Homo sapiens: one gene and its partners. The protein of the gene in region 5 purifies or fractionates together with the protein of the main gene of each other region. This does not show direct contact. Each region holds a gene or a part of one and is shown on either strand. Other genes may lie near its edges. The genes, in order: OSBPL8, NPEPPS, ACAT1, PGD, MYLK, MYL9 and ME2.

Region 1 (3,500 bases), on a different chromosome or scaffold from region 5:
TCGTCTTGCTTTTCTGTAGCTCAAAACTACTCATTTTTTTCTTTCTCAATTGTTCCAGCACCTTAAAAAAAAAGAAAGAAAGAACGTTTTTGTTTAAATAAGATTACAGGACTAATTAATGACTCTTAGTTTCTACCTGGCAACAGTTTTCTAACCTGATTTAAGCATTAGAACTCTAGGTAAAGGGAGTGGTGCAGAATCTACTTCTGTTCCATTCTCTGATACAAAAGTAAAGTTACTGGATGGACTGGCTTCTATAGGATTTATTAGTTGGGTAATAACTAAGGCTATCATTTCTGTTCTTAAGTCATGAACTTCTTGCTAGATGGCTTATATTTTTGAATCAGAAATATTGTATACACATTCCCTATTTTATTGTTGTTATATCTTTGTGTTAAGAGAAAGAGACTTATGTATAAGAGATATTTTGCTAGGCACTTAGTACTTATTATGCAACTTTGTCCTCCCTACATGTTTGCACATACATATCATTCTCTGTCATGGGAATTCAAGTCTGTGTACCTTCCCTTCTACACTCAAATTTGAGGTTGTCAAAGATGGAAGAATGTATATGTACCAGTTCTAAAAATTCTGTCTCAGCCATAACCATTTGATGTTCTTTTTCCAGAGATAAGCTTTGCCAAGGCATACATATGATAATTTGTGAGAGTATATAATTCAGCATATTTGAAGATGAGGAAATGAGACTTAGGATAAATAACTTTAAGTGCACCAGCTAAGAAGTGGCAGCTCTAGGACTTGACTCATGTCTATCTGATCCCAAAGCCTTTTCTGGTTTTAACATGCTGCCTTTCTAGATGGGTAGGATATAGATATACTTTTATTTAACAGAAGAAAGAACTAGTAGGGGAAATCATTTTACCTCAGTAGTCTTTTCTGTTAAACCAGTGGTTCTCAACACTAGCAATACATTAAAATATTTTGGGGAAACATTTAAAAAATATATCAATACTTGCGCCTGACCCCAGAGATTCTGATTATAAAAATTCTCTGATAATTCATGGATCCAAACTTCAGAAGCACTGCATTACATTAATGGATCTTTATGAAGCCAGTGAATCTTAAACAGTGTAAGACGCATCTAGGAAGCTTGCTAAAAGCGTAGATTCCTGAGCTTTACCTTCATTACATCCTATCATCTTGAGCCAGCAACACTTCAACACTTACTATCATGAGTTTAAGAGTCTATGTAGTAAGTTTCTCTTGCCAAGTAAAAAAAATTAGTCTCCACTTATGAACAGGTCTCTCTCTACTCAAGGGACTGGATTTATATCTTGACTCATTTCTAAGCCTATGAGCATAAGTGTTGTCAAAGCCAGAAATTCATGTGAGCATTATTTTCTCTACAAGGGATTTGAGGCCTATTCTATATAGATTTTATTTTCTGTTACATTTTTAATACTTTTAATATTTTCGCACATGTATTAGACTCTGGCAACGGGTAACTCGAGCCATAAATGCCAAAGACCAAACTGAAGCTACCCAAGAGAAGTATGTTTTGGAAGAAGCTCAAAGACAAGCTGCCAGGGATCGGAAAACAAAAAATGAAGAGTGGTCTTGCAAATTATTTGAACTTGATCCACTCACAGGAGAATGGCATTACAAGTTTGCAGAGTAAGTAACTTAAAATAGTTTATTTCAAACAATGTATTAGCATGGTTTGTTGCCTTTATTTCTAGAATATTTGTTGCTGGAGTAGTTTTTATTTAATTAAACCATGTATATTAGTGTGAGATTTTTAAACTTGGTTTTGCATTCATTATAAGCTTGACTCTATGATAGAAGTTAGCCTATAAAATAAGTTGAGGATCTGAAGATTAGGTATGGGGAAATCTCATTATTAGAACTATGTATATAATTATTAATAAAATTGGATCATAGAATAGAAAGTTTTAAAGTTCTTTGTTTAGTCATTGAGCAAATGGTTTTTTTTTTTTTCATTTATGTAGTACCCGACCATGGGACCCACTTAATGATATGATACAGTTTGAAAAAGATGGTGTTATTCAGACCAAAGTGAAACATCGTACTCCAATGGTATGTAATAAAAAACTAGGTACACTAGGTATATAAATCTGTTAAATCTTTAGTATCTATAGCAACCAACTAAAATTTGGTTTCAAAATTTAAAATTTTGGGTGAGCAAAATACGCAGCTCTGAACTCTTCTTACCCCAAAGAAACATCAGAAAACAAGCAAAAACTGTCAACTCAATTTGCCAGAACTCTGGAAAACAGTCAGAGGTGTTCAGCAACCAAGTGAACACTGGTCAAGAAAGTGCAAAGAGAGGAAAGCTTTGTGGCATTTTACCTGCCCTTGCCCCAGGTCCATCCCAGTGCAGTAGCAGTCTTGAAGAGCCCCTGCGTTGCCAGTGTAAGTCCCTAGTTCCAGAAGGAGCAGAGTGGACCTCATACACAATTGTGTATGTCTGTCCTAACCTGTCAGAATACTACCTGAAGGACTTACACAGGCACTCATCTCTGAGAAAATCAATAAAGACAAATTATTCAAGGGAGCCAAACAAATTCTGGAGCTGAAAAGTATAACAAAAATGAAAATTCACTAGAGGTATTCAAAAGCAGATATAAGCAAGCATAAGACAGGATCAGGAAACTTAGAGATAAGACCATAAAAATTATCCAGTCTGAGGAGGAGAAAGAAAAATGAATGAAGTGAGGTGAACAGAGCCTAAAGGACCCATGGGACACCATCAAGTGGGTTATCATTGCATTATGGGAGTTCCACAAAGAGAAGACAGAAAAATGAATGAAGAATATTTAAGGAAAGAAGACCCCCCAATCCCCAAATTTGGTGGAAGATATAAATCTACAAATTCAAGAAGCTCAACAAACTCCAAGTAGGATGATCTCAGAGAGACCCACACCACAACAAACTGTCAAAAGCCAAAGAGAGTCTTAAAATCAGCAGAGAGAAACAACTTATCACATACACTGGGGATCATCCATAGGATTAACAACCGATATCTTATAGAAACCATGGGGGCCAGAAGGCAATGAGATGACATATTTAAAGTGGTAGAAGCAAAAACTTGTCAATCAAGAATTCTGTATCTGGCAAAACTGTCATTCGAAAATGGGGGAGAAATTAAGACATTCCCAGATAAAAGCTGAGGGAGTTCATTACCACTAGACCTGCCCTACAAAAAAATGCTAAGGTAAATATGTAATAAAATGAAACTCAAAGCTGTATGAAGAAATAAAGATTTTTAGTAAATAGTTGGACAAATATAAAAGCTAGTGCTATTGTAATTTTAGTTTGTAAGTCCACTTTTTATTTCCTGCAGGACTTAAAAAATAAATGAATGAAAAATAATTTAATTACATATCTTTGTTATCAGACATACAATGTGTAAAGATATAGTTCATTACAACATAAAAGCAGAGAGGATGGAGCTGTATAGGAGGAAAGTTTTTATGTACTACTGAAGTTAAGTTGGTATCAACTCAAACTAGATTGTT
Region 2 (4,004 bases), on a different chromosome or scaffold from region 5:
CCTGTTGGAATTCACTATTGTGTCATCTTTGTGTTGCCATCTAGCCTGAAAAGAATTTCTGGAAAAAAAGTGTTTTGAAAAGTTCATGCTACTTAAAAAATTTATTTATTTTTTATTTATTTCCTTGCATCAAATTAACAAGTCCCTGCTAATATCTAGTATATTACCATATGCTCACTCAATGGCACAAACCAGTCTTCCACAAAAGTAGAAAAGAGGTAAGGAGAAACATGTCACTGCTTGTTGTTCTATCCCGATACTTAAATCAAACTCACTTCTTTAATAAGTAATCATTTAAAAATCTGTACTTTTTTCTAGACTTTTCCCAAAATATGTTTGCCTCCAAAAATTATGAATCCATTTTGGCAACTAATAGGGTAAAGAAACAAATGTTTTTTTTAATGTTAGTCTTTTCACATAATGCGAACTCATTCATCACTAGGTTCTCTTTCCCAAAGGTTTGCCAAGTCACAAGACACACTACTGTTTACAATCCCTCCCATCTGCCCCTTGCCAATATATATCAAACACTCTAGTCACTTGGCTTAAGCCACAGTTTCCCAAATAACCTTCTCAAATTCTAATTTAGACCCAAGATGCATTCGTTCTGATTCATATTCTTAATGGAAAAATTTTAAATCACCTGATTTTCACTAAGTTCTGCCTTTTGATGCTGCCAAATCCTAGAGCCCTCTTGCTTTCACACCAGTGCTCCAAATGTGACAGCTATAGTTATCTATCACAGATAAGTATAGATAACTATACTTTTAAATTCTGTACTTTTAGACATATTTTTAATCTGAGTACCGTACCCTCTTGGTTTTTCAAAGACAACTACCAACATTCAATTCATTCGAGCACCAGTCTTCACTTCATTTCATTACTATATACACCATGTTCTTTAAGGTGGGAGCCTACTGATTTCCCCCGACCCCAGACTGCAGTAGGAAGAGAAATGAAACAAAATATATTTACTAACATTCTATTTACAGATAACTATCAAACAGTTCCCATTTTTATTACAGGCTTCCTATTACATAGTATCATAAATGCCTATTGTGCAGGATGTTTGTCGGGCATCTATACTGATGGTCTCCAAAATCAAACAATACTTCAGATAATGCTGCGGGAGGAGGGAGTGGAGTATGATTCACCAAAAACTGCAGTGAAGAGTAATGGAATATTTTCACCGGTGGTATGTTATAACTAATAGCTTCTTTCTTTCCTTTTTTTTTTTTTTTTTTTTTTTGAGACGGAGTCTCACTCTGTCGCCCAGGCTGGAATGCAGGAATGCAGTGGCGCGATCTCGACTCTGCAACCTCTGCCCCCCGGGTTCAAGTGATTCTCCTGCCTTAGCCCCCGAGTAGCTGAGATTACAGGGGCCCGCCACCACGCCCCGCTAATTTTTGTATTTTTAGTAGAGACGGGGGTTTCACCATGTTGGTCAGGCTGGTCCCGAACTCCTGACCTCAAGTGCGCCCGCCTCAGCCTCCCAAAGTGCTGGGATTACAGGCATGAGCCACCGCGCCCAGCCAGCTTCTTGGGAGAGGAAGGTACTGCTAAGCAACCATCACGGTAGCAATAAATCCACCAGCTTCGAAGGCCGCAAAGCTAGGAAGATAGGTGGAAAAGCGGAGATGGGGTCCTCCCGCAGCTTCTCTGGAGGTTAAGAGAGAACAAAGTCACTGCTGCACTGTCACTTGAGGGAAAGGGGGAGGGGGCGGATCATCTTGGAAACCCAGCCCCTGGGCTGGAGCAGGCGGGGAGAAGTCAGCGAGGCTGCCTGGGATTAACATTCTCGTTCTCACCCTCTCCCCCCCCTTCTAGAAGCTCCCCTCGTCGCTCCAACGCGGCGGCCAGAGTCCCAAATGACCACCCCCTCCAATCTATCACCCGAGAGGTGTAGAGAGAAACCAAAGAAAGAACTGAGTCAGGTGGTTGAGGCAGAGCGGGGACTCCCATGACCTCTCCGTCCTCCCCCAACACCCTCCAGCCTCCCCCGGAACACTATCAAGCCCAGAAGGGTCCGGGGCGGGGGGGAAAGCCCCACACAGGTGTGCTCGCCGGGGAGGGGCGCAATGGCCGGGCCGCCGGCTCCCCAGAGCTCCCGCAGCGCGGCCCCAGCCCGAGCCCCAGCCTCAGCTCCGGCCACGGTCCCTGCCCCGGCCCCAGCCCCAGCCCCAGCCCCAGCCCCAACAGAGCAAGGCAGAGCACGCCGAACCCGGCGCCCTGCGGCCGCCCAGCCCCGACCCGAGGCCCGCCCGCCCTCCCGGCCGGGCCCTGAGTCCAGCCCGCGGGCGCGGCCTAACTGCTCGCCCCGCAGCTTGCCCCGGGGCCCGAGGGTCGCTGTACCTGGGCGGCGGCCTCCAGCTTGCCCTCGAAGGTGAAGTCCAGCAAGTCGGGCTTGAGGCAAAGGCTGTAGTTGATGGGGGAGACATCGGCAGGCAGCCGCTCGAAGGGCCTCTTCTCCGGCATCGCGGCGAGGCCCAGGCTGTGGAGGCGGCGGCGAGAGGAGCGGCTGAAGACGAGAAGGAGGAGGGGAGGAGGCGGAGGGCCGAGGAAGAGCAGGCGGCGAGCGAGGGAGGGGGCGGCAGCTGCCAGCCACATCCACCGAGCGCGGGCGACCGCCGGAGGAGAGCGACCGGGGGAGCCTGGGGGGCGGGGGAGAGACCCAGCCGGAGCGCTAGGGGCTGGGAAGGAGGCGGTGCGGGCGGACTGGCGGGCGGGCTGCCTACGGGGAAGGGGGCGGAGGGGAGGGAAGGGGAGGAGGGCCCGCAAGGAGGGAGGGAGAGGGGGAAGTGGTGGCGGCGGCTGCGTGCGCGGCCCCGCCGGCCGGGCGCGCCCCCGTGGAGTGCGCGCGCACGCCTGGGCAGAGGGCGGAGCGGCGAGGACGAGGGCGCGGCCGGCGGGGCGGGAGGGCGTCGGGTTGCTCGCGCGAGCGCAGGGCTGGAGGCGGGCGCTGCACCTGTCGGCGCCGCTCAGGACTGGGGGCGGCCTTCCAACTGGAAGGAGCCGGGAAGGGCTTGATCAGAGGAAGGAAAGGCATAAGGGGCCCTCGGGAAATTGAAGCCTACGCAGTTGGTCAGTTCAGCCAGGGTCGCATGCATAAAATACCAGTTACAAGCAAAACCCCAAACTGGATTCTGCCTCCAGGTCAGCGAAAAGCCCTGACTTGAGGCTCTCTGGCCTTAGTTCCTGTTAAGTAGCAAATTCAAAGGATGATTTGAAAGTTTTGTTATAAAACCTTTAATAGCCGGGCGCAGTGTCTCACGCCTGTAATCCCAGCACTTCGGGAGGCCGAGGCGGGCGGATCACGAGGTCAAGGAGATCGAGACCATCCTGGCTAACATGGTGAAACCCCGTCTCTACTAAAAGTACAAAAAATTAGCCGGGCGTGGTGGCGGGCGCCTGTAGTCCCAGCTACTCAGGAGGCTGAGGCAGGAGAATGGCGTGAACCCGGGAGGCGGAGCTTGCAGTGAGCCGAGATCACACCACTGCACTCCAGCCTGGGCGACAGAGCAAGACTCCGTCTCAAAAAAAAAAAAAAAAAAAAAAACCTTTAATAATCTAGGTTACTTCAACCAATGAGATTTGGACTTTTGAGGGAGTGATTTCAAAAACTGTATTTTTGTTTCCATGATTTAATGTTTAAAATGGGATGTTTCGGGCGGTCGCGGTGGCTCACGCCTGTAATCCCAGCAATTTGGGAGGCCGAGGCGGGCGGATCACAAGGTTAGGAGTTCAAGACCAGCCTGGCCAATATGGTGAAACCCCGTCTCTACTAAAAATACAAAAAAAAAAAAAATAGCCGGGCTTGGTGGCGGGCGCCTGTTGTCCCAGCTATTCGGGAGGCTGAGGTAGGAGAATCGCTTGAACCCTGGAGGTGGAGGTTGCAGTGAGCCGAGATTGCGCCACTGCACTCCAGCCTGGGCGACAGAGTGAGACTCTGTCTCAAAATAAATAAATAAATAAATAAATAAATAAATAAAATGGGATGTTTCACC
Region 3 (3,500 bases), on a different chromosome or scaffold from region 5:
TAGTAACATGCTCTATTAAGTTCTGCAGTTGTGTTTGAGTATCGGTTTTTCAAAAGTGACTTATATTGGTTTTAGGCTTACCTATTTCTACTCCATGTACCACCATAAACAAAGTTTGTGCTTCAGGAATGAAAGCCATCATGATGGCCTCTCAAAGTCTTATGTGTGGACATCAGGTAAGAAACACCGTCCTTCCCATTTATTAATCAGAGTAATACCTAGGGCTAAAAGACACAAAAATCTAGGCATATTCATATTTTAGAAATGAGATTCTTTCTCATAAGTTAGTATGTTTTCTCACATGCTCAAGAGTGTCTGGATTTGCTAAGTCCATTTGAAGTATGGTCAAAATGATAGCGTAGGCTGGGTATCATGTCTGTAAGCACTTTGGAAGGTCGAGGCAGGAGGATCCCAGGAGTTTGAGACCAGCGTAGGCAACATAGCAAGCGAGACTCTGCTCTTTGAAAAAAAAAAAAGCCTAAGTGTCTTGTGTTACAAAGTTGTTTTTAGGCCCAGGCACAGTGGCTCACTCCTATAATCCCAGCACTTTGGGAGGCTGAGGCTGGGGGCAGATCACATGGTGAAACCCCGTCTCTACTAAAAATACAAAAATTAGCTGGGCGTGGTGGCAGGTGCCTGTAATTCCAGCTACTCGGGAAGCTGAGGCACAAGAGTCACTTGCATCTGGGAGGCAGAGATTGCAGTGAGCTGAGATTGTACCACTGCACTCCAACCTGGGAGATAGAGCAAGACTCTCAAAAAAAAAAAATTGTTTTTAGTCAAGGCATTTGGGTCTTTCTCTGAGGCTGGGTGACTAAAAATTCATAAATACTGTATTTGCCAGAATAAGACAGGTTTTCATTATAAAGGAGAACACGGTGCTTAACCCTGGGAATCAAATCATTGCTTGAGCCCAGGCTTGATGACTAATTTGTAGTCATTAAGTTAAGTTCTACAGGCTTTCTAATTAGCCTTGCTGATCTATATCTTGTCTTTACTTGAGATCAAGCAAGAGACAGGCTCCTTAGCAAAAATATGCTGTCATGTCAGGAGGTGAGACCTGGACACACAGAAGAATCAAGATTCTCTCAGATCTGAGCCCTTCATTTTTCAGATGAAGATTTTTTTCAGTGTGTCTGAGACAGCCACAGAGTTACAGGGCTGAGCATCTGCCATGTGACAGTCATTGGAAATAGAGTGGTGAACAAAACATTTAAAAAAATCTGTACATGTGCAGGTCTCTGTTGGAAAAATGCCTAAAAGAAATGCTGAGTCAGGATTTGAACATTTTGGTATTTGCAAATGCTTTCCATAAAAGTTGTACCAGTTAGACTTTCCAAAAATTGTGTGACTTGTCTGGATCTGCACCACCACTGGGTGGTACCAAACCCTTGTCAAACTGGTAGGTGAAAAACGGTCACCAGATTTAGTTTCAGAACTGTTTGTCATGGAAAGTTTTGTCTTAATTGAAGTATTGTGGTTCTCTAGCAAATGCCATTTGTACTATATTGAAATACTTTCATTTAATATTATTTTATTCATTTGTGGATATATACAGTGACTTATAGGCATTCTTGGAAGTGCTTTGTTTTGAATATTTATGACCTTAGAAAACAGTCAGTTTTACTTTATAATGAAGAATTGATACCTTATTTTCTGTCACTTATTATTGCCATCACCCCCAGTAAAAAGTACAAGTGAATAAAACTTAGATGAGAACTGATTAAGAATTTCTCTATTTCGGAATAGGCAAAATATTTATGTTTCTTTGGTATAGAGCTTGCTTGTCTGTATGCCTGATTAAAGACTGTAAGAAGATATTATTGGCTTTATGTTTACATTAATGTTTTATATTAAACTGTTTTTAACTAGCCCTTATAATGCAAGTGATTTTTTTTTGTTGACTTGTAAAGTAGTAACAAGTTGATTAATATTTATTAAACTTATATATGCCAGTTGCCAAGGATGTAAAAATATGACAGGGTGTCTGGCCTCAAAGGAGCATAGTCTAGTGGGAAGACTTGACATGTAAACATATAATAATATTAAAAGCATTGCATAGTAATTGGGGAACACAAAGGAGGAGAAACTGTTTCAAGAAAGGATAGAAATAAATGGTCAAGGCAGACATGAAGTAGTGTTCTGATTAGTTTTAAGAGAAATGTAGGTGTTTTACATGTTGGTGGATGGGGAAAGTGCAGAGGTATGTGTGTGAAATGTGCATGGTGTCTCTGGAGAGCTTTAACTAGTTCCATGTGACCTGAGGTATAGGTTAGGCTGTGAGACTGAAAAAGGGGAGAGAAGGGATACTGTAAAGGCTTTATATATTATGCTGAGTTATCTAAGGTGCGAAATGATCAGACTTACATTCTAGCCAAAATGAGTCAGATGAGTGTTGATGATGCTTTGGTGGAAAGGCTGCATGTCAGAAGATCAAGTGGAAAATTATCTCAGCTGTCCAGGAAGAGATGATGAGGATCTCAGTCAAGGAAGTATGATTATTTTCATGAACTGAGATTACTTCTAATCTTCTAGAGCACATTAAATTTTTAGCAGCATGAATGAAATGAAGGGTTAGAAGTTAAGAATTTCAGGCCAGTCATGGTGGCTCACACCTGTAATCCGAGCACTTTGGGAGGCTGAGGTGGGCGGATCGCTTGAGTCTGGGAGTTTGAGACCGGCCTGGGTGATATAGTGAAACCCCATCTCTACTAAAAATATTATACAAAAATTAGCTGGGTGTGATGGTGCATGCCTGTAGTCCCAGCTACTTGGGAGGCTGAGGTGGGAGGATCACTTGAGCCCAAAAGGCAGAGATTGCAGTGAGCTGAGATCGTGCCACTGCACTCCAGCCTGGGCAACAGCGAGACCTGTCTAAAAGAAAATTTAAGAATTTCAGAAGATGGTTTTACATGAAAGATTTCTGGTATTTTTTTTTTAAAGACAGAGTCTTGCTTTGTCACCCAGGCTGAAGTGCAGTGGTGCGATCTTGGCTCACTGCAAGCTCTGCCTCCCAGGTTCACGCCATTCTCTTGCCTCAGCCTCCCGAGTAGCTGGGACTACAGGCGTGTGCCACCAAACCCGGCTAATTTTTGTATTTTTAGTAGAGATGGGGTTTCACTGTTAGCCAGGATGGTCTCGATTTCCTGACCTCGTGATCAGCCCGCTTTGGCCTCCCAGAGTGCTGGGATTACAGGGGTGAGCCACCGTGCCCAGCCAGATTTCTGGTATTCTTATTAATGTCTGGTTGTGAACTTTTGAGACAGAGCCTTGCTGTCACCCAGGCTGGAGTGCAGTGGCACGATCTCAGCTCACTGCAATCTCCGCCTCTACTTTTTTTTTTTTTCTTTTGAGGAGTCTTGCTCTGCCCCCCAGGCTGGAGTGCAGTGGCACAATCTCAGCTCACAGCAACCTCTGCCTCCCAGGTTCAAGCAATCCTCCTGCCTTGGCCTCCCGAGTAGCTGGGATTAGAAGTGCCCACCACCACACCCAGCTAATTT
Region 4 (2,474 bases), on a different chromosome or scaffold from region 5:
AGGCCGAGGCAGGCGGATCACGAGGTCAGGAGATCCAGACCATCCTGGCTAACACGGTGAAACCCTGTCTCTACTAAAAATACAAAAATTAGCCGGTTGTAGTGGTGCGTGCCTGTAATCCCAGCTACTGGCGAGGCTGAGGCAGGAGAATCGCTTGAACCTGGGAGGTGGAGGTTGCTGTGAGCTGAGATCGTGCCACTCCACTCCAGCCTGGTGACAAAGCGGGACTCCGTCTCAAAAAAAAAAAAAAAAAGACTCATTGCTTTTTTCCCCCCTTGATTATTTCAGTGTATTCCTAGGAAAGATAAAGGATGCATTTGATCGAAACCCGGAACTTCAGAACCTCCTACTGGACGACTTCTTTAAGTCAGCTGTTGAAAACTGCCAGGTATGTAGCCTAGGGCTGGTGCCATGGTTACTCTACCTCCCTGGGGCCATCAGTTGTGATGTTTGGTTTTTTGTTTTTTTTTTTTGGTTTTTTGTTTTTTTGAGACAGAGTCTCGCTCTGTCACCCAGGCTGGAGTACAGTGGCATGATCTTGGCTCACTGCAACCTCCGCCTCCTGGGTTCAAGCGATTCTCCTGCCCCAGCCTTCCTAAGTAGCTGGGACTACAGGTGTGCCAACATACCTGGCTAATTTTTTTTTTTTTTTTGTATTTTTAGTAGAGATGGGGTTTCACCATGTTGGCTAGACTGGTCTTGAACTCCTGACCTCGTGATCCGCCCACCTCAGCCTTCCAAAGTGCTGGGATGACAGGCGTGAGCCACCGCGCCTGGCCTAACCATCAGTTTTTCATTTACCCACATTGATATGAATGAAAATCTATCCGCGTCACCAGGGGCAGATCACTAATCTCTGGCCGTGCGTTTTGTGCTCAGGACTCCTGGCGGCGGGCAGTCAGCACTGGGGTCCAGGCTGGCATTCCCATGCCCTGTTTTACCACTGCCCTCTCCTTCTATGACGGGTACAGACATGAGATGCTTCCAGCCAGCCTCATCCAGGTAAGCCTGTGGAGCAGGGATTAACCTGGCTGGCCCCTCGGGGGCGTGCGCCATGGACTGTCCTGACCAACCTACTCTCTCGTTTCCTAGGCTCAGCGGGATTACTTCGGGGCTCACACCTATGAACTCTTGGCCAAACCAGGGCAGTTTATCCACACCAACTGGACAGGCCATGGTGGCACCGTGTCATCCTCGTCATACAATGCCTGATCATGCTGCTCCTGTCACCCTCCACGATTCCACAGACCAGGACATTCCATGTGCCTCATGGCACTGCCACCTGGCCCTTTGCCCTATTTTCTGTTCAGTTTTTTAAAAGTGTTGTAAGAGACTCCTGAGGAAGACACACAGTTTATTTGTAAAGTAGCTCTGTGAGAGCCACCATGCCCTCTGCCCTTGCCTCTTGGGACTGACCAGGAGCTGCTCATGTGCGTGAGAGTGGGAACCATCTCCTTGCGGCAGTGGCTTCCGCGTGCCCCGTGTGCTGGTGCGGTTCCCATCACGCAGACAGGAAGGGTGTTTGCGCACTCTGATCAACTGGAACCTCTGTATCATGCGGCTGAATTCCCTTTTTCCTTTACTCAATAAAAGCTACATCAGACTGATGCTCTTTCTCCAGATTCTTAGTCTCACCTCGGCCACATGGAGCCATTATCCCCATTGGCAGAAAGATTTTTCTTTAAAAAAAAAGACTAGAATAACACAAGAAACCACATTTAGGATTATGCTTCACTCAGAGGAGGCAGGCAGGGAGGACACACCAGGGGCTTTAATACACTGGGCATGTTTTCTTTCTCCAATTGGGCAATGGGTACATGGACGTTCACTGTAACGTGCTTTTTCTTTCGTCTTTTTTTTTTTTTTTTTTTTTTTTGCTCCTGGCAAGCTGTGCGTGACATTCTTTATGGCTTTTTGTATGTCAAATACTTCATACTAAACTTTCTAGAGAATTAAACTTTAATGATGGGCTCAGCTTGGTCTGATTTATTTCCTTTCCCACACCTGTCTCTACTTGCTCTAAGCCAGGCCCAGGGATTTTGAACAAGCTAAGCCGGCTCCTTAAACTAGGCTTTTCACTTTATCTTACTTACTCAGAGAAGATAAAACCTGCCAGTGATATTGTTGTGTGGCCTGGGGCCAGTGTGACTGTTCCCTGCAGCGGTTTGACTTCATGATGATTTCCCTGGAGTGTTAAAGTCCTAAGAGTTGCCTAAGAGGAGCGAGCAGCGCCTGTGCCTCGACAGCTGGTGTCTACAGTGTGACCTCTGACCTCTCGGCTAATGTCAGTGAAGGAGACAATTTTCATTAAATCACCAACTTTTAATTTATTTTTCTTTTTTTTGAGACAGAGTCTCGCTCTGTCACCCAGGCTGGAGTGCAGTGGCGTGGTCTTGGCTCATTGCAAGCTCCACCTCCCGGGTTCACACCATTCTCCCACCTCAGCCTCCAGAGTAGCTGGGACTACAGGTGCC
Region 5 (3,500 bases):
ATCATCTGATTTCAGAACATTTTCACTACCCCTCCCAAAAAAATCCTACCCATTAGCTGTCACTCCCTGTTCTCCCATCCCCACAACCCCTGATAGCCACTAATATACTTTTTGTCTCTATGGGTTTTCCTCTTCTGAACATTTGATGTTAAATGGAATCATTCAATATGTGGCCTTTTGTGTCTGGCTTCTTTCTCTTAGCTTAATGTTTTCAGGGTTCATCTGTGTTGTAGCAGGTGTTAGTACTTCATTCATCCATGTGGCTGAATCATATTGCATTGTATGGGTATAGCATACAGTGTTTTGTTTATCCACGCATCACTTAAGGTCCATGTGGTTGTTTCTACTTTTTAGCTATGGTGAAAAGTGTTGCTATGCACATTTATGTATGAGTTGTTTTCAATACCTGTTTTCAATTTTGATGTTTAGACCACATATATTGTTGGGTCATAAGGTAATTCTGGATTTAACCCTCTGAGGAACTAACAAACTGTTTTTCACCATTTTACATTCTTCTAGCAATGTACAAGTGTTGCAGTTTTTCCACATTCTCACCAATACTTGTTATTTTCTTGCTTGCTTGCTTGGTTTCTTGCTTTTTTTAAAAAATGAGGTCTTGCTTTGCCAATGGGGCTAGAGTGCAGTGGCATGATAATAGCTCACTGTAACCTTGAACTCCTGGGCTCAAGCAATCCTCCTGCCTCGCCTCCTGAGTAGGTGGGACTAAAGGTGCTTGCCACCACACTCGGCTAATTTTTTTTATTATTTGTAGAGATGGAGGTCTCACTATGTTGCCCAGGCTGGTCTCAAACCCCTAGACTTGAGTGATCCTCCCACTTCAACCTCCCAAAGCACTGGGATTATAAGCATGAGCCACTGCACTCAGCCTGTTTTCTATTTTTTCATTATAGCCATTCACAATCATCTGACTATGATTTTTTTTTTTTTTTTGAAACAGGGTCTCACTCTGTTGCCCAGGCTGGAGTGCAGTGGCGTGATAATAGCTCATTGCTGCCTCAACATCCCAGCCTCAAGTGATCCTTCCCACCTCAGCCTCCTGGGTAGCTGGGACCACAGGCATATGCCACTATACCCAGCTAATTTTGTTTATTTTTGTAGATAAAAGGTCTTACTATGTTGCCCAGGCTGGACTTGAACTCCTTGCTCAAACAGTCCTCCCACTTTAGCCTCCTAAAGTGCTGGGTTTACAGGCATGAGCTGCCACACCCAGCCTGACTGCAATTTTGATTTGCATTTCTCTGATGACTAGTGATTTTGAGCATCATTTCATATACTTATTGGACATTTGTATATCTCCTTCAGAGAAATGCCTATTCAAATACTTTACCCATGTTTTAATTGCATCATTTACTTTTTTATTGTTGAGTTGCAAGAGTTCTTTATGTATTCTGGATACAAGTCATTTACCAGACATGATTTACAATAATCCTCTCCCATTCTGTAAAGGCTGGATTATTTGTCATGTGCGGCCACAGAAGTCCCTGCTTAGTTAGTTTAGTGATCACCTAATTGATTGGATGGAGAGTTCCTTAAATGCCTTGAACTAATACTTTTCCCAGCCTTTGCCAAGGGGCTCTGTGTGTGTGTTACGCCCATCTTCAGTGCTCCGGCCAGCAGTTTACAGCTCTGCTTTAGCCTTTACTTTCTGCTTGCACCAAAGCTCCAAGTCAGCCAGAGGTGAGACAGGAGGGCCTTCTTACATCTTTCCTGGGCAGGCTCACAGCCCTGCACAACCATTTGGGCTCCTCAGTTCTCAGGAATCTGTCAGAGCTTTTCAAAGTCCTGGACATCTCATTCCCCAGTTTTTCCTTTGAAGTTTTTTGGTCAGGCTCTTGTTAGCTCCGAATGATATTGCTGTCTCAAGTAGCTATAATGTTAAACAATTGCTACTGATTGATTTTAACAAACATCCTGGAGACAGGGCCATCCACACAGAGTAAACTTTGAGTCGGATTAAACAAAGACAACCCGGAAAATGGAGTCGTTGAAGGAGCTGCCAGACAGGGCAAATAGTGACCATTCTCTTACGCATGGGGTTTTTCAGGAGCTCTGAACCCATCCTGCCCCTTGCTAAGTGGCTGATTTTCACAAGTACCATAGGTACTGTCGGTTTTCAGAGTTACCCCAGAGCTGGGGCAAGGGGCACAAGAGTGAAAAAGCACATAGCTTGCTGTTCTTACCAAGATTCAGCTATGTTTTATTGTTGTTGTTGTTGTTGTTGTTGTTGTTTGTTGTTTGGGAGGGTGGAGGGGCAGGGTATTGTTGTTTGGGGTTTTTTGTTGTTGTTTATTGTTTTTACTTTTTAGAGACAGAGTCTCGCTCTGTCACCCAGACTGGAGTGCAATGGCGTGATCATAGCTTGCTACAGCCTCAAACTCTTGGGCTCAAGCAATCCTCCTGCCTCAGCCTACTAAGTGAGACTACAGGCACATGCCATCATGCCTGGCTAATATTTTAATTTTATTTTTTTTGGTAGAGACAAGAGTCTTGCTATGTTTCCCAGGCTGGTTTCAAACTTCTGGCTCAAGCAGTCCTTCTGCCTTGGCCTACCAAAGTGCTGAGATTAAAGACTTGAGCCACCACTCCTGGATGTTTGTTTGTTTTTATTGAATGCTCCTCAGAATGTTGCAAGCCTGTGGTTAATTTCTGGCATTCTGAAACCGTTGCTTTTGACTCTTTTTGCCAGTATTGTTGTTGCTTTTATGGAGGAGTAGATCTTCAGAGGTCTTTACTTTGCCATTCCACATCCTATCTTCTTGATGAAGACACTCGCTTTTCTAAAACTTCTCCAGTTCCTAAACATCCTAGCTAATTCTTGGCAGATGAGTTTACCATGAAGCAGGTCATCTGATGGGTGTTCTTTTAGCTCCTCCTACATACTTCTCTCTTTCTGTTTTCCTATACTACAGAATACCTGTCTGTTTCCCTTCCCAAGACTTCTCTTTCTGTCCCTTCCCATCTTCACAAGGATCTGATCTAACAATGATTTACTCTCTCACCACTTCTTCAATCTTTCCCCTTCCCTTATTGAGAGACCTCTTTTTTCTCCCTACAAGCATGCTGTAGTTGTCCCTATGCTGAAAAAGGAAAGAAAATCTTCCTTCCACTTGAGAGCCCCTGCAGCTCCTACTCTATCCCTCCACTCTCTTTCATCCCTAGACTATATTTGCCTCAAGTAGAGTCTCTATGCACAGCTTCTACTTGATAATAACAGCTAACACTCACTGAGGATGTGCTATGCTGGGTTTTGTGCTAAATGCTCTACCTGAATTGTTTCATTTAGTTATCCCAACAATCTTACAAGAAAATCATACCCATTTCCTAGATAAGAATACTGATCTTTAGTAAGGTTAAATGACTTGTCCAAGTTCACATGCCTTGTAAAAGAGAGCATATTTCTAACCCAAACTGACCTGGCATGAAAGCCTATATCCTTTTTTGATAACTCCCAAAGGCATTTCTCTAATGAGGGAGTTCAA
Region 6 (3,500 bases), on a different chromosome or scaffold from region 5:
CCTAAGTGTTTTACCCAAACAGTCACAGCCAAAATAGCTGATTCCATGCCCGGCACTGTTCCAGGAGCTCTCGGGCACTGAGTCAGTTAATCCCTACTGCTGGGCACTCCTCATGTCTCCAGTCCCAGATGAAGACTCTCGGGCTCAGAGAGGTAGAGGAAGTTGTTCAGAATCACACAGCCACACTTGTCTGCTTTTGTGAAGAACTGGGTGGTGGGAGCCCCAAATCCGTGGGCAGCCTTGAATGCCAGGCCGAAGTGCTAAAAGCCAGTCTGGGGGAGGCAGGAAGATTCCCTGGCCCAGAGTCACAGGGCCACCCAACCCCCACCCCTTCCTGCAGGGAAGCCCCACCCACCAGAAGCCAAGATGTCCAGCAAGCGGGCCAAAGCCAAGACCACCAAGAAGCGGCCACAGCGGGCCACATCCAATGTCTTCGCAATGTTTGACCAGTCCCAGATCCAGGAGTTTAAGGAGGCTTTCAACATGATTGACCAGAACCGTGATGGCTTCATTGACAAGGAGGACCTGCACGACATGCTGGCCTCGCTGGGTGAGCTGGGACAGGGACAGGGGTGAGATGGATGAGGCCAGGCAGGCTCTGCCAATCATTTACAGGGCACCTCCTGTGTAGTGAGACGCGTGGTGTCCACCTTAGAGAATAGTTGCCATTAACTTAGTCCATTCAACAGGGAAACTGGGCCGGGCGCGGTGGCTCACGCCTGTAATCCCAGCACTTTGGGAGGCCAAGGCGGGCGGATCAATAGGTCAGGAGATCGAGACCATCCTGGCTAACACGGTGAAACCCTGACTCTACTAAAAATACCAAAAATTAGCCGAGCGTGGTGGCGGGCGCCTGTAGTCCCAGCTACTTGGGAGGCTGAGGCAGGAGAATGGCGTGAACCCGGAAAGCGGAGGTTGCAGTGAGCCGAGATCGCCCCACTGCACTCCAGCCTGGGCAACAGAGCGAGACTCCATCTCAAAAAAAAAAAAAAAAACAGGGAAACTGAAGCACAAAGCAGGTCCACCACAGGGTCTGAACGTAGACAGGCTGACTCCACAGTGGGCCTGTCTTAGGCAGATTTGTGCACTGGGCTGCCAGGTATCATTTCATTTAAAGAAAGGGGTCAGCTGGCCAGGCGCTGTGGCTCACGCCTGTAATCCCAGCATTTTGGGAGGCCAAGGCGGGCGGATCACGAGGTCAGAAGATCGAGATCATCCTGGCTAACATGGTGAAACCCCGTCTCTACTAAAAATACAAAAATTAGCTGGGCGTGGTGGCGGGCGCCAGCTACTCGGGAGGCTGAGGCAGGAGAATGGTGTGAACCTGGGAGGCGGAGTTTGCAGTGAGCCAAGATCACGCCACTGCACTCCAGCCTGGGCGACAGAGCAAGACTCCGTCTCAAAACAGAAAGAAAGGAAAGAAAGAGGTCAGCATCTAAATGAAAGTGTGAACTGCAGGCTGCCCACTGCACAGATGGGGAAACTGAGGCCTAGAGGGGCGGCCAGACCAGCTCCCCTCCTTCAGAGGTCACCCATCTCAGGCTCTCATAGCCTCTCTGGTCCCAGTGACTTCCTCAGGATCAGGACCTTAGAACTAACAGGGTACAAAAATCAAGTCCAATTCTCTACTGCAGATGGGGAAACACAGGCCCAGAGGCAAGGCCTCCACAGACCATGCCCCAACCCACGGGCCTGCCCCAACATCCCTCCCAAAGTGCTGGCCACAGCCAGCCACTCTCAGCCCAGTTCCCGCGTACCCCTCATGCCGAGTGACAGCATCCAGACCAGACACTGCCTGGGGGAGGGAGAGTCCAGGACCAGAGGACACAGCCCCGTGACAGTCAAGCCTCGAGCTTTGAGGCCAGAGAGTCAGTCCCTGGTAGGGCCCTGTGCACTTTCCTCTTCCTGTGAAATGGGGCCATGACCCTGACATTTCCCCACGAGGCACTGAGCAGGAGAACCAGGCAAACCTGAGTGGGAGAACTGACAGCACGCTGCCCCCGGCCCTGAGCACCAAACCTCTCCCCGCTTCTGGCCAGGCTCGCTTGAAGGCTCCCTCCCCCAGGAGGTCACCTGGCAGGAAGTAAACTCCAGGGTTCTTTTTTTTTCCCCCCGAGACAAAATCTCACTCTGTTGCCCAGGCTGGAGTGGCACCATCTCGGCTCACTGCAACCTCCGTCTCCCAGGTTCAAGAGATTCTCCTGCCTCAGCCTCCCCAGTAGCTGGGATTACAGACGTGCGCCACCATGCCCGGCTAATTTTTGTATTTTTAGTAGAGACAGGGTTTCGCCATGTTGGCCAGGCTGGTCTCAAACTCCAGAGCCCATCTTGGCCTCCCAAAGTACTGGGATTACAGGTGTGAGCTACCACGCCTGGCCAACTCCAGGGTTCTTATCTGGGGCTTTCCCAGCTTCGTGGAAGGACTGAGGCCTGGTGAGAGAAGGGGCTGGCCTTAAGTACCCCAGTGTCCTGGCGTCACAGCTCCTCTTGGGCCTCAGCTTCCATGGCCATCCCAGGGGGACACAGCAGGGTATGTGAGGCTCAGGGACATGAAAACTTCCTATTTCCAAGGCCACACCCTGCACCCAGGCCCCTGAACCCCTGAGACTTCATGACAGCCCTGGGTGTCCACCCAGAAAAACATGCACTGTGTTTGTAGCTCATATCCGTGGGTCTGCAGGTGAGTCACACCCTTATCTTCAAGTTAAAAACAAGAGCAGCAAATATAATAATAAGAAGAAGCCCTGCAGGTATTATCTTAAATCTCAAAGCAATCCTATTGAACAGATACAATTATTCCCACTTTACAAACAAGGAAACTGAGGCTCAGAGAGGTTAAGTAATTTACCCAAGGTCACACAGCTACCAAGTAGTGGGGCTGCAATAGAAACCCAGCAGTTGATTCCAGTCCATAGGCCTGTGCCAGTCATTGTTATGAGCCTTTTGCAACTACTGTCTTCACAATTCCCCTAAGAGATGGGGAAAACCAAGGTGCACAGCTGGGATCCAAACCCAGGCCTGTCTGACAGCAAAGCACTGTGTCTGGACTTTGGAGTTAGGCTGCCTGGGTTCAAATGCCAGGTCTACTCAAGTCTCCTCCTTACTTGCTGTCTGACCCTGGACAAGTCACCTGGCCTCTCTGTGCCTCAGCTTCCATACCTGTGAAGTGGGTAAGAATGCTGACTTCACAGGGTGGTGAAAGTTAAATGCAATAAGGCACGTGGTCGACCAGCCACAGCGAGCAGTCTGCAGAGGGTTGTTCTTATTACACTTTAGTGAGCACTGCCGGCTGCTGACATCCAGGCCACAGGAGGAAACTGGTGGGAGCAGCCAGGGACTCCGGGCGCCCACTGCTGTGGCTGCGCTAGAGCCATGCTTTCCAGTTCACAAAACCCACTACCTCCCGTCTCACACGGAGCGGTGAAGGGCAGGGGTGGGGGACGGGGGTGCAAGTTGTCCCAGCTGGGGACAGAGGGCCCAGGACCACAGGCTGGAACACC
Region 7 (3,500 bases), on a different chromosome or scaffold from region 5:
TGTGCCCATTTTTTATTTGTAAAAATCTTTGTTTTTCTTACAGGGACAGCTGCAGTAGCTCTAGCAGGTCTTCTTGCAGCACAAAAAGTTATTAGTAAACCAATCTCCGAACACAAAATCTTATTCCTTGGAGCAGGAGAGGTAAGTTTTGAAGGCTTTTTGAAACTTAAGCCTATCCTCTCTTATAGAATTAGAAAATGGGCAGAATATTGATGTTTATGAAAGAGCATAGTGAGCCTGTAATTTTGTTGAGGTAGAGGATATGAAATCAAGAGTTCTGCTGTAAAACATGTAATTTAAAATATGTTTCGAGAGAATATCACGAAGAATTTTTGTTTGATTTGTAAGGGAAAAATAAACCAAATATTTCTTATGGCATATAATCTTCATATATAAAGTAATTCAAGCATTGCATCGTACTCTAGTATATATTAAAATTTATGTTTTGTTGAACAGGCTGCTCTTGGAATTGCAAATCTTATAGTTATGTCTATGGTAGAAAATGGCCTGTCAGAACAAGAGGCACAAAAGAAAATCTGGATGTTTGACAAGTATGGTTTATTAGTTAAGGTAAGGTATTTAAAATTTGGAGAAGCAAAAGAGTGTATTATATTTTTAGTTGGATTTTTAAAATATTATTCCTTAAAATCTTGTTTCTCATTGGAGTCTCCAAATTATACCAATTGGGACCTTCCACTCTCTTTTCAACAGATGTCCCTAGTCTTGTTGTCTTTTACAAAGACTTCTGCTTCATATTGAATTAATAATCTCTATGTTGGCATCAGACTTACTCTTTCTTGCTTTGTTGTCTTGCTCTTAAGAGATCAAATGGCCATTGTACAAGTATGATCGTGTTTGACACTCCTAAAACTAGGTTTTTAGTAGGAACTGAGAACTTCCTAATTAAATTGCAGTATTGCAGTAGTTTTGATATTTGAGCAGAAATTCTTTTAATTTTATTATTATTTATTTTTTTTGAGATGAAGTCTCTCTCTGTCACCCAGGCTGGAGTGCAGTGGTGCGATGTCACCTCGCTGCAACTTCTGCCTCCTGGGTTCAAGCAATTCTCCTGCCTGAGCCTCCCGAGGCTACCGTGCCTGGCCGTGAGCAGAAATTCTTAACCCTTTGGAGATCATAATCCCCTGAAGAAATCTAATAAAAATCTGTGGACCCTATCCCCAGGAAAAAAGCATGTGCTCCTGAAACCAATTTATGGATAATAAAGAGCTTATCTCCCAGATTAACTTAGTACCTTTGGGCCTGACTACCTTTGTTAGCATTGATTACCATTTTCACTAGCTTAAGAATGTCATATATCTTCTGTGTAACACATTGAATATAAGTAAACTGTTCCATAGTTAAACCAATCCAGTACACAATGCTGTTATATTTTTGTATGTACACATTAAAATATAATGGTATAGCTGTCGCTTGGCATTTATGTCTGTGGAGCAAGCTATCTAAATGTACTTTGTTCCAGTTCTAAAATCTTTTCTTGTTAATTAGAACCAGTATTCTATTAGTACAAAAAATAAAATGAAAAGTTAAAGTATGTGAATGAAAAATCTTGAGTGCTCAAACTACATGTAATTTAAAATGTAATAGTAGTTATATACCAGACATTGTTATAAGACTTTACATGTATTATCTCCTTTAATCATCTCAAAAAATCCTGTGAAGTTTTACAAATGAAGAAACAGTTTAAAAGGTCGAGGGAGTTTTCCAAAGTCATCAGCTTATAAGTGACGGAGGTAGGATTCAAAACCAAGTATCCTGACTGCGAAGCCTGTGCTCTGAATAATTAAACTGTGCTGCCTCCCAAAGAGGCTGTAACTACCATATTTACTAGTATGTAAGGCACAAGGATAAAACATCACATATTTAGAAGGCTATTGGGGGATGTATGTTTTGACTAGTACACAGTTAGTTTGGTACTTCTTTTTGTAATGTTGGTTTTCATCAAATATGTTGTGATTCTTTAGCATATTGGTAGGTCAGGTCTAACACAGTATTGGTAGCTACAATGTGTTTACTTAGCACAAAGTGAGAACCCTGTCCATCTCCATATTCATCATCAGATTATATATTTCTTTTCCAGTGTGCAGGTAGCTTGGCCTATGGGCATTAGGCTTCCAGTGTCTCCTGGTGATCCTAAACACTGCCCTTCATTTTGAAACTTTGAAAACAGTGGCTTCTTATGTCACTGTTTGCTCAGCCTGGTTTTCTCAGCCGATTGATGATAGTGTCCTGCTTTACTAACCCCTGCAGTTTCTTATCTGGAGTTATCTTGGAGTTCTGATGGAAATACACTTTTTCAGAAGTCTTCTTTTTTACCAAAATAAGAATATGAGTTCTCAGTTGGTTTTTGCATTCAGTATGTTTTTGTCTGCCTTAAATCTTTGAGAAATTCTTCATTGTTCTAGTCTGTCAGTGGTATCTCTTCTGGCTTTGTGGCATTACTACAAATTTAACTTTTATGGTTTTTGACCTGGGATTTGGAAAGGAAAGCATGTTTCTTCATTCAGCCATCTTTAACCAGAATTCCCTGTTCCTCTTGTTTCTGAACTCTTGGTAGTGCAAGTCCATGGTGTCTGTCTGCAATTCTGAAATCCTAAAGGCTTTGAAATTCCAAAATTTTTTCCAAAATTTATTTTTGTGACCAATCTGATTGCCTTGAATTTACCTAGAAGCGAAACCTGACTCAAACTAATAAGAAGCTCTTTGTAATCTTAACCTTTTGTACTTGATGTGACTATTCATAAGTTTGTTCAGTTGTGGAGTATCTGTTGGGAGGGAGAATATGTAATATTTGATATACGCCATATTGTATTTCTAAAATATGAAAAATTCTCAGCCAGGAGTGGTGGCTCATGCATGTGGTGGCTCAGCTTCCCACTTTGGGAAGCTGAGGTGGACGGATCACTTGAGCCCAGGAGTTTGAGACCAGCCTGGGCAAGATGGCAAAACCCCATCTCTACAAAAAAATCATCCGGGCATGGTGGTGTGTGCCCATAGTTCCAGCTACTCTGGAGGCTGAGGTGGGAGGATCACCTGAGCCCGGGGAGGTAGAGGCTGCCACTGCACTCAAGTCTGGGCGACAGAGTGATACCCCATTTCAAAATAAATAAATCAAATTAAATTAAATATGAAAATTTCTTAATTCCAAAACTCATCTACCCCAGATAAAGGACTGTAGGCTTTTGTGCCACATTGGACTTAGGAAGACCTCATAGTGTAAATGCATTTTTGAGAGGAACTAGAAAGTTTCTAGGAATAATGGTAGATTTGATTTTTGTTTTATATTTGAGTTTATGGACATGATGAAGATAGAGTTGGAAGGTATGGGTTGAAGAGGAAAGTAAATGAAAATGAAAAGACATTTCTATTGTAGAAACAATGTGTAACTCATAATGATGTCTTTTTATTTCATCTTTAATATGCATTGACTAAAAAAATACTGTATTTTATCTCAAAATTTAGGGACGGAAAGCAAAAATAGA

What was found.
Region 1: the proteins of MYLK (region 5) and OSBPL8 purify together in Homo sapiens (affinity purification with mass spectrometry; one large-scale study listed by BioGRID and IntAct). This does not show direct contact.
Region 2: the proteins of MYLK (region 5) and NPEPPS purify together in Homo sapiens (affinity purification with mass spectrometry; one large-scale study listed by BioGRID and IntAct). This does not show direct contact.
Region 3: the proteins of MYLK (region 5) and ACAT1 purify together in Homo sapiens (affinity purification with mass spectrometry; one large-scale study listed by BioGRID and IntAct). This does not show direct contact.
Region 4: the proteins of MYLK (region 5) and PGD purify together in Homo sapiens (affinity purification with mass spectrometry; one large-scale study listed by BioGRID and IntAct). This does not show direct contact.
Region 6: the proteins of MYLK (region 5) and MYL9 purify together in Homo sapiens (affinity purification with mass spectrometry, with the first as the bait; one large-scale study listed by BioGRID). This does not show direct contact.
Region 7: the proteins of MYLK (region 5) and ME2 purify together in Homo sapiens (affinity purification with mass spectrometry; one large-scale study listed by BioGRID and IntAct). This does not show direct contact.

Annotation. Positions count from the first base shown.
Region 1 is NC_000012.12:76,367,772-76,371,271, reverse strand, and holds part of OSBPL8 (oxysterol-binding protein-related protein 8), read left to right. Parts: intron 1-1,449; coding exon 1,450-1,635; intron 1,636-1,970; coding exon 1,971-2,058; intron 2,059-3,500. UniProt on the Homo sapiens protein: Lipid transporter involved in lipid countertransport between the endoplasmic reticulum and the plasma membrane: specifically exchanges phosphatidylserine with phosphatidylinositol 4-phosphate (PI4P), delivering phosphatidylserine to the plasma membrane in exchange for PI4P, which is degraded by the SAC1/SACM1L phosphatase in the endoplasmic reticulum.
Region 2 is NC_000017.11:47,529,904-47,533,907, reverse strand, and holds the start of NPEPPS (puromycin-sensitive aminopeptidase), read right to left. Parts: upstream 2,801-4,004; 5' UTR 2,608-2,800; coding exon 2,353-2,607; intron 1-2,352. UniProt on the Homo sapiens protein: Aminopeptidase with broad substrate specificity for several peptides. Involved in proteolytic events essential for cell growth and viability. May act as regulator of neuropeptide activity.
Region 3 is NC_000011.10:108,135,067-108,138,566, forward strand, and holds part of ACAT1 (acetyl-CoA acetyltransferase, mitochondrial isoform b precursor), read left to right. Parts: intron 1-75; coding exon 76-176; intron 177-3,500. UniProt on the Homo sapiens protein: This is one of the enzymes that catalyzes the last step of the mitochondrial beta-oxidation pathway, an aerobic process breaking down fatty acids into acetyl-CoA.
Region 4 is NC_000001.11:10,418,538-10,421,011, forward strand, and holds the end of PGD (6-phosphogluconate dehydrogenase, decarboxylating), read left to right. Parts: intron 1-288; coding exon 289-388; intron 389-879; coding exon 880-1,002; intron 1,003-1,092; coding exon 1,093-1,212; 3' UTR 1,213-1,974; downstream 1,975-2,474. UniProt on the Homo sapiens protein: Catalyzes the oxidative decarboxylation of 6-phosphogluconate to ribulose 5-phosphate and CO(2), with concomitant reduction of NADP to NADPH.
Region 5 is NC_000003.12:123,727,333-123,730,832, reverse strand, and holds part of MYLK (myosin light chain kinase, smooth muscle), read left to right. Parts: intron 1-3,500. UniProt on the Homo sapiens protein: Calcium/calmodulin-dependent myosin light chain kinase implicated in smooth muscle contraction via phosphorylation of myosin light chains (MLC). Also regulates actin-myosin interaction through a non-kinase activity.
Region 6 is NC_000020.11:36,544,519-36,548,018, forward strand, and holds part of MYL9 (myosin regulatory light polypeptide 9), read left to right. Parts: intron 1-340; 5' UTR 341-366; coding exon 367-550; intron 551-3,500. UniProt on the Homo sapiens protein: Myosin regulatory subunit that plays an important role in regulation of both smooth muscle and nonmuscle cell contractile activity via its phosphorylation. Implicated in cytokinesis, receptor capping, and cell locomotion.
Region 7 is NC_000018.10:50,920,618-50,924,117, forward strand, and holds part of ME2 (NAD-dependent malic enzyme, mitochondrial isoform 1 precursor), read left to right. Parts: intron 1-43; coding exon 44-141; intron 142-456; coding exon 457-570; intron 571-3,480; coding exon 3,481-3,500.